Homo sapiens: one gene and its partner. The protein of the gene in region 1 purifies or fractionates together with the protein of each later gene. This does not show direct contact. Each region holds a gene or a part of one and is shown on either strand. Other genes may lie near its edges.

Evidence for each region.
Region 2: the proteins of BTN3A2 (region 1) and ODR4 purify together in Homo sapiens (affinity purification with mass spectrometry; one large-scale study listed by BioGRID and IntAct). This does not show direct contact.

The regions. Positions count from the first base shown.
Region 1 is NC_000006.12:26,368,042-26,371,860, forward strand, and holds part of BTN3A2 (butyrophilin subfamily 3 member A2 isoform a precursor), read left to right. Parts: 5' UTR 1-9; intron 10-136; 5' UTR 137-141; coding exon 142-226; intron 227-523; coding exon 524-871; intron 872-2,280; coding exon 2,281-2,562; intron 2,563-3,819. UniProt on the Homo sapiens protein: Plays a role in T-cell responses in the adaptive immune response. Inhibits the release of IFNG from activated T-cells.
Region 2 is NC_000001.11:186,378,673-186,382,491, forward strand, and holds part of ODR4 (protein odr-4 homolog), read left to right. Parts: intron 1-1,094; 5' UTR 1,095-1,113; coding exon 1,114-1,212; intron 1,213-3,819. UniProt on the Homo sapiens protein: May play a role in the trafficking of a subset of G-protein coupled receptors.

The DNA of each region.
Region 1 (3,819 bases):
TTGGCAGAGGTAAGATCTTCTTCGGTCACCATATTTGAGTTAGCCCTGGGGAAGTGGACATTTCCATGCAGAATCCTAAAGCTTCTTCCAGGCCATAGTGTCTGTCCCACACCTTCTGGTATCTCTTGATATGCAGCATAGATGAAAATGGCAAGTTCCCTGGCTTTCCTTCTGCTCAACTTTCATGTCTCCCTCCTCTTGGTCCAGCTGCTCACTCCTTGCTCAGGTAGGGAATGATTCCATGATTCCACATTTATGTTTCTGAAGCAGACAATTATCTCAATTACCTAATTAAGCAGACAATTACCTAAATGCCCTCTTAGAACCTTTAACTCATTCCCATACCTGGAAGTCCATCCCAACCTGAAGGATCACCTGTCACAAAGAGACAAATGGTCCTTCTGTTAGGATTGTGTTCCCCTCTAGGTTCTCTGTATCTCGCCTTCCCTGTCTGAGAAGGACCCTTCCTCTCATGACCCCAACTCCAAAACCCTCTGATGGAGCTTCCCCCTTGTGCTGACAGCTCAGTTTTCTGTGCTTGGACCCTCTGGGCCCATCCTGGCCATGGTGGGTGAAGACGCTGATCTGCCCTGTCACCTGTTCCCGACCATGAGTGCAGAGACCATGGAGCTGAAGTGGGTAAGTTCCAGCCTAAGGCAGGTGGTGAACGTGTATGCAGATGGAAAGGAAGTGGAAGACAGGCAGAGTGCACCGTATCGAGGGAGAACTTCGATTCTGCGGGATGGCATCACTGCAGGGAAGGCTGCTCTCCGAATACACAACGTCACAGCCTCTGACAGTGGAAAGTACTTGTGTTATTTCCAAGATGGTGACTTCTATGAAAAAGCCCTGGTGGAGCTGAAGGTTGCAGGTGAGCCTCCAGGTTTTGTTCTGAGAACATTTCTCTGTAGGATCTAGAGCAGATGCAGAGTCCCTCTTGCAAAAGCACTGCAGACACTCCTGGCTGCTCACTAGCAATTGCCTGCACTGCCTCCCAACTTAGCTTCTCTGAGGCCCTTGAGTAAGACACAGGTTTTCCTTTAGGAAGAATTCCTGCTGTACCCTACATGCTCAAGTAAAGAACTCCTTTCCTCTGGCCACCAGAGATATAAGCGAAGTGAAGGACGAGGGATAGGAAGCATAAGAAACCATCTCTTCAGTGACTGGTACACAGTCATTTTGGTTTAGTTGTGTAACAGATGGCTTCTGTTGTGTCTCCAAGTGCACACTACCATGGGTCCTGGGAGGTGGAATAGTGACTGTATCTGCTGCCAGTGTTCTCCAACTAGCCATCCCCAGGAATACTCCTGTAGTAGAACTAGCTGTATTTCTTACGTGTTGCAGTGAGGAAGAACACACATCATGGGGAGCTGTGGCGGGGTCTCAGTAAGAAGGTGTTAGAGCAGACTTGGTATACAATTTGGGCTTGTGTTAGGGGATTGGGGCCGGGGGAGTTCATAGACTTAGCCCTCTGCTCTGGATGAGATTCCATCAGGAAGGTGTGGGCAGGTTAATTCTGAGTGAGAGCCTTAATCAATCTTATGTAGGAAGAAGGAGACCAGGGTGAGACAAAAGCTGTAATTGATGAAGGGGCAGCAATCCCTCATTGCTGAGGGGGGATGTTTGGTCACTGCTGTGGTTTGGACAATGTTCATGTTTTTCTCTATGCTCACATATGATGTGGGGTGGTATTGTTTTTCCCATGATCCATCATAGTCACAAAGTGCCATTGTCTGTGTTCTGTGAAATTGCTTATGTTCAACAGGATGACACAGAGACCCGGTGTCAGTTTCCATATGTTGGGACAGCTTTTCTCTTTCTCAGTGCAATCCCTTGCCCTGTGGCTGCTGGTTAGGTTTGGTTTAAGGGGATCTCTAGCAGACAATCATAGGAGGAAGAGAAAAGGAAGAAGTCTGGGTGCTTATTCACTGGCTTCCTTACTGCAAGTTACCCTCAGGCTGGCTGCATTGCCTTGCTGAAGGTAACAGCTCCTCTAAAGGAAGTCCTCAATGCATGAATCTCTTCTTTTTTGTGTTCAAAACAGCTTCCTCTCCTCCTCCCTCTGGTAATTGGGGTGGGTGGGAATAGCCCCACTGTTTCTGACCCTGGGATACTGCACTAGCAAATTTAGTTTTCCCCTCATCATGACCACACTTTTGTAAACAGCTCCTGAATGAAATATCTCTTGAATTATCAAATCTGAGCCTGACATTGATTCCCATTGAGACCCTCCCTAATACAGGAGCTATCCAGAATTTAGGCCAAATTATCCTTCCACAGCACTGGGTTCTAATCTTCACGTCGAAGTGAAGGGTTATGAGGATGGAGGGATCCATCTGGAGTGCAGGTCCACCGGCTGGTACCCCCAACCCCAAATACAGTGGAGCAACGCCAAGGGAGAGAACATCCCAGCTGTGGAAGCACCTGTGGTTGCAGATGGAGTGGGCCTATATGAAGTAGCAGCATCTGTGATCATGAGAGGCGGCTCCGGGGAGGGTGTATCCTGCATCATCAGAAATTCCCTCCTCGGCCTGGAAAAGACAGCCAGCATTTCCATCGCAGGTCAGTACCTGCTTGGCCTCAGGTTTTCTGAGCTGAGCTGTGGCAGTTGAATGAAGGGGGATGTGTTAATATCTGTGGTCGACCTGGGTCTCTGCACTGAATATAAGGCCCAAAGCACAGACCTGGAGGCTCCTCTTTGTGCCAGGGGAGCTTCTTTCCTCCATAAAGGTGTTCGTAACACAAACATTTTCTGAACATTTCCTATCTGCCAGAAAGTATGACAGGCAATGGGAATTGGAGGAAAAACATTAAGATAAGCTCCTTATATAATGTGAAATGACAAAATGGTTATATATATATATTTACAAACTCATATCATAGAGAAAGAGCTGATCTCCTTGAATCAGAAGGAGATTCTAAAAACCTAGTAAAAAGTTTTGGCCAGGCATGGTGGCTCACGCCTGTAATCCCAGCACTTTGGGAGGCCGAGGCAGGCAGATCATTGAGGCCAGGAGTTTGAGACCTGCCTGGCCATGGTGAAACTCCATCTCTTCTAAAAATTCAAAAAATTAGCCAGGTGTGGTGGAGTGCACCTCTAATCCCAGCTACTCAGGAGGCTGAGGCACGAGAATCACTTGAACCCAGGAGGCAGACGTTGCAGTGAGTGAGAGCAGACCACTGCACTCCAGCCAGGATTACAGAGCGAGACTCTGTCTCAAAAAATAAATAAAATAAAATAAAATAGAAACCAAGTAAAAAAAATGTTAACAAAGCCCATGAATTATCAATTCACAGAAAAGGAAATAACTCACAAAAGGGTGCTCATTCTCACTCACTGGGTAAACATATGAAATAATTTTTCACTTATGATATTTGCAAAAATCAAAACTGCTTTGGCTTATAATACATGATTCTCATAGGAATGTAGGAAGGCAGTGACTCTCAGTCATTTGCTCATGTAACTTCCTGTATTTTTGATGTGCATTAGGTCAACCTCTGTTGGGGGCTCTATAGCAATATCTATCCAAACTACACACTTATCGATCCAAACTTCCACTTCTAGGAATTTATCTGATAGATAAGCTTGCATTTGTATGAGATGATCCATGTGAAAGGTTTCTGTTTTTCGTTGTGTGTGTGTCTTTTTTTTTTTTAGACAAAGTCTCACTCTATTGCCCAGGCTTGAGTGCAGTGGTGCAATCTCAGCTCGCTGCAGCCTCTGCCTCCCAGGTTCAAGTGATCCTCCTGCCTCAATCTCCCAAGTAGCTGAGATTACAAGCATGTGCCACCACACCCAGCTAATTTTTGTATTTTTAG
Region 2 (3,819 bases), on another chromosome or scaffold:
ATTTAAGTCCCTCCTTTGCCACTTACCCAGCTTTGTCACTTTGGCAAGTTATTTAATCAACTTTTCTCATTTCAGTTTCTTCATCTATAAAATGAGGATTATAATAATGGTACCCACTTCCTGGGGTTTTATGAATTATTAATGTTACATGGAAAGTACTTACAATAATGCGTTGTACAAAGTAGAAGCTATATGTTGTTATTGTATTGCTATTTATCTACTTAAATAACTCTTACTGTAGTATGTATTGCTCAAGGACAGAGATTGTGTTGCTCATCTTTGTGTTATCCCACTTAGCATAGTTTCTAAGCAAATAGTATAGTTCTTTCATATATGCTTATCAAGTAAATGAATTTGACTCTACCTCCTAATGAACTATTCAGAAATTCATGTTTACGATTTTAGCAATGAGAACACCAAGACTTAGCAATAGAGTATCAAAGATAATACAACTAGGGAGTAGATCTAAAATAAGAAATCTGGTGTGTTGGCTGGGCATGGTGGCTCACGCCTGTAATCCCAGCACTTTGGAGGCCGAGGCGGGCGGATCACCTGAGGTCAGGAGTTCGAGACCAGCCTGGCCAACATGGTGAAACCCCGTCTCTACTAAAAACACAAAAATTAGCCGGGCATGGTCGTGAGCCCCTGTAACCCCAGCTACTCAGGAGGCCGAGGCAGGAGAATCACTTGAACCTGGGAGGCAGAGGTTACAGTGTGCCGAGGTTGCGCCACTGCACTCCAGCCTGGGTGACAAGAGCAAAACTCCGTCTCAAAAAAAAAAAAAAAAAAAAGAAATCTGGTGTGTTGCTTACTAGTTTAGTATCCTCTCCCTTATCCCAGGTATGAGTAAAAGGTTTGATCTCTCATGTCAACTCTGGTTGATTTGTGGTTGTTTCCTGCTGCATTGTATTGAGAAGAACTCTGGAACTGCATCTGAACTTTGCAAGAAGGAATACACTATGTAATAAGTATTTGCTGCAAGGCATGAGATAGCCTCAGGATAGTATCACTTCTCTTGCTAAACTACTCCCATGATAAAGACATTGCAAATGATATTTTACCTAAATGCTGTATCTTTTCTTCTTGTGATATAGGAGATTTTAGTTCCTAAAAATGGGAAGAACCTACATTGTAGAAGAGACTGTTGGCCAGTATCTTTCAAACATAAATCTCCAAGGAAAGGCTTTTGTCTCTGGCCTTTTAATAGGACAGGTATGTATCTTTTACTCTGCATTTATAACTAAATAATTACTCTGTAATTTATTTTAAAAATTACTTGTTGATTTAAAGTTAAAAGATGCTATTTAATAATAAACTCAAGATTGGGGGATGGAAGAAGAAATGTGGAAGAAGTAACTTTAAAGTAGGTCTTTGAGGAAACATGGAGAAGTAGACAAACCTAGCCCAATTTTGCTCGTCAGGACACCTTCCCCTTTGACCATGTAAACGTAATTTATAATATGGAAACTTCAGAATTAGAATGTTTATTGACCAGATTTTTCACATTTTGTTGTCTTTCCAAAGTGTTTTGTATTCCCTTCTAATCTTTTTAATATCTGGTTGTCCAGTTCTTTACAAAAGAAGCTTTTGAAAATTTTATTCCTGTTCTAATTTGTGTTGTCTTATATCAGACTTATGGCAACAGTGGTCATATTTTTGTTGTAAGCTATAGTACCCATCTTACTGAATTTTTTGTTGTTGTTGTTGGATCAATAGGGAGGGAGAGGGATTGGGAAAAATTTGGAAATTAGACAAATTCTAATTTCCTCTTAGAGCTGAGTCTTAAAAACACAAAATGGAACAGAGATTCAGATACTTATTTTAAAACCCATGCCACTGATTTCTTATGAGTGAAGGAAGAACGTGTTAATCGGCAGGAGGGACCGGTCAGCAGTACAAAGCCAAAAAAAAAAAAAAAGGAGAGTCACACAGGCAAGCTGACTGTGTCCATCCAAACACAGGAGAGTGCACTTTGGCCCAAGGACTTGATTTTGAGGCCTACTAGCCAATAAAGCTCTTATTGGGACAATTTTCTTTCTAGATATCTTAGCCTGATGCCTTAGAATCTTCAAATTACATAATTAACTTTCCTTATTCTGATTCTACCCATATTCCCAAGCTACTTTCTTTTATAATTTGATGCCCCATGTTATCTACTTATAAAGAATACACTGTCCAGAGGACTCAAGTGTTCAGATGCCTTCATGACATTTTAGTTTTCTACATCATTCTGAATAAACTTAATCAATGTCAGTCTAGCCATGAAAGACAGGCTCATTTTCAGAATTTTTACAAATCAGATTTCTTAATTTGCAAGACAGAGGGCAGATCTACATGGTTCAACCAGGTAGCACCACTCTGTGAGGCCTCTCATTAGACAGCCAGACTGCCTCTCTTGAGAACAGTGTGAATTTCTTTTTAATTCAGTTGTAATGTGGGGCTCTTTTTGTTAGGAGTTTTCTATTTAAGTTTTTTTCTTTCTCTTTGTTTAAAACATTTAAGAGAAGAAGAGTCTTAGAGAAAGATGTGATCAGTAGAGATAAAAAGTCAGGGAGAAAGACCCTCTTCTAAATTTGTCTTAACTGGATAAAGGTTGTTTCTAAAGCTCAGGCAAACTGCCATCTTACAAATGAGTGTCTCATAATTTAAGGCCTTCCTTCTTTTTTTTTTTTTTGAGACGGAGTCTCGCTGTCGCCCAGGCTGGAGTGCAGTGGCGCAATCTCGGCTCACTGCAGGCTCCGCCCCCTGGGGTTCACGCCATTCTCCTGCCTCAGCCTCCCGAGTAGCTGGGACTACAGGCGCCCGCCACCTCGCCCGGCTAATTTTTTGTATTTTTAGTAGAGACGGGGTTTCACCGTGTTAGCCAGGATGGTCTCGATCTCCTGATCTCGTGATCCGCCTGCCTCGGCCTCCCAAAGTGCTGGGATTACAGGCGTGAGCCACCGCGCCCGGCCTAAGGCCTTCCTTCTATCTCTTTTTATGCTGTAGTATGTATTGCTCACGGACAGAGCAATTCATTCCTTTCAGTATTCTACGTGCTTTTTCTTCCAGAGTTCATTACTTTTTCCTCTCCTTCCTCTTAAGCTTGCCTGTTTCCTGGTCTCTGTCAGTTTCTTTTTCTTTTCAAAGTTATACATTTTATGAAGAAAAGAGGAGCCTTCTTAACTGAGACCTACTTTCTTTTCCTGTGTTTATTTGAATGTAACTTCCTGAAAATAACCTGTAGGAATAGTTACTCTTATTTTCTATCCCAAGATGATACTAATGATCAGAGTTTCAGGTCATGTGTGGGGAAGATACAATGCTAACTTGCATTAGCAGTGTTATTTTCACTCTTTTTTTATAGGAAACTTTCACTGTAGTGAAACTGAGCTATTGAATGTTCCCCTACATTTATTTTTAGATCTCCCAACTTTGGTTACTACTTAACTGATATTACAGCTGAAGAACAGATTGGGTGTGGTGGCTCATGCCTGTAATCCCAATGCTTTGGGAGGCCGAGGTGGGAGGATTGCTTGAAGGTCAGAGTTTGACCTAGCCTGGGCAACATAGCAAGACTCTGTCTCTACAAAAAAGTAAAAAAAAAAAAAAAAAAAAGCCAGGCATTATGGCTGATTGTTTGAGCCTGTAGTCCTAGCTACTTGGGAGACTACTTGGGGGGAGGATTGCTTGAGCCCAGGAGTGCAAGGTTGCAGTGAGCTATGATCACACCACTGCACTCCAGCCTGGGCATTAGAGCAAGACCCTGTCTCTAAATAAATAAATAAATACACACACACACAAAGAACAAAAAACAAAACAAAACAAAAAACTTGAGGA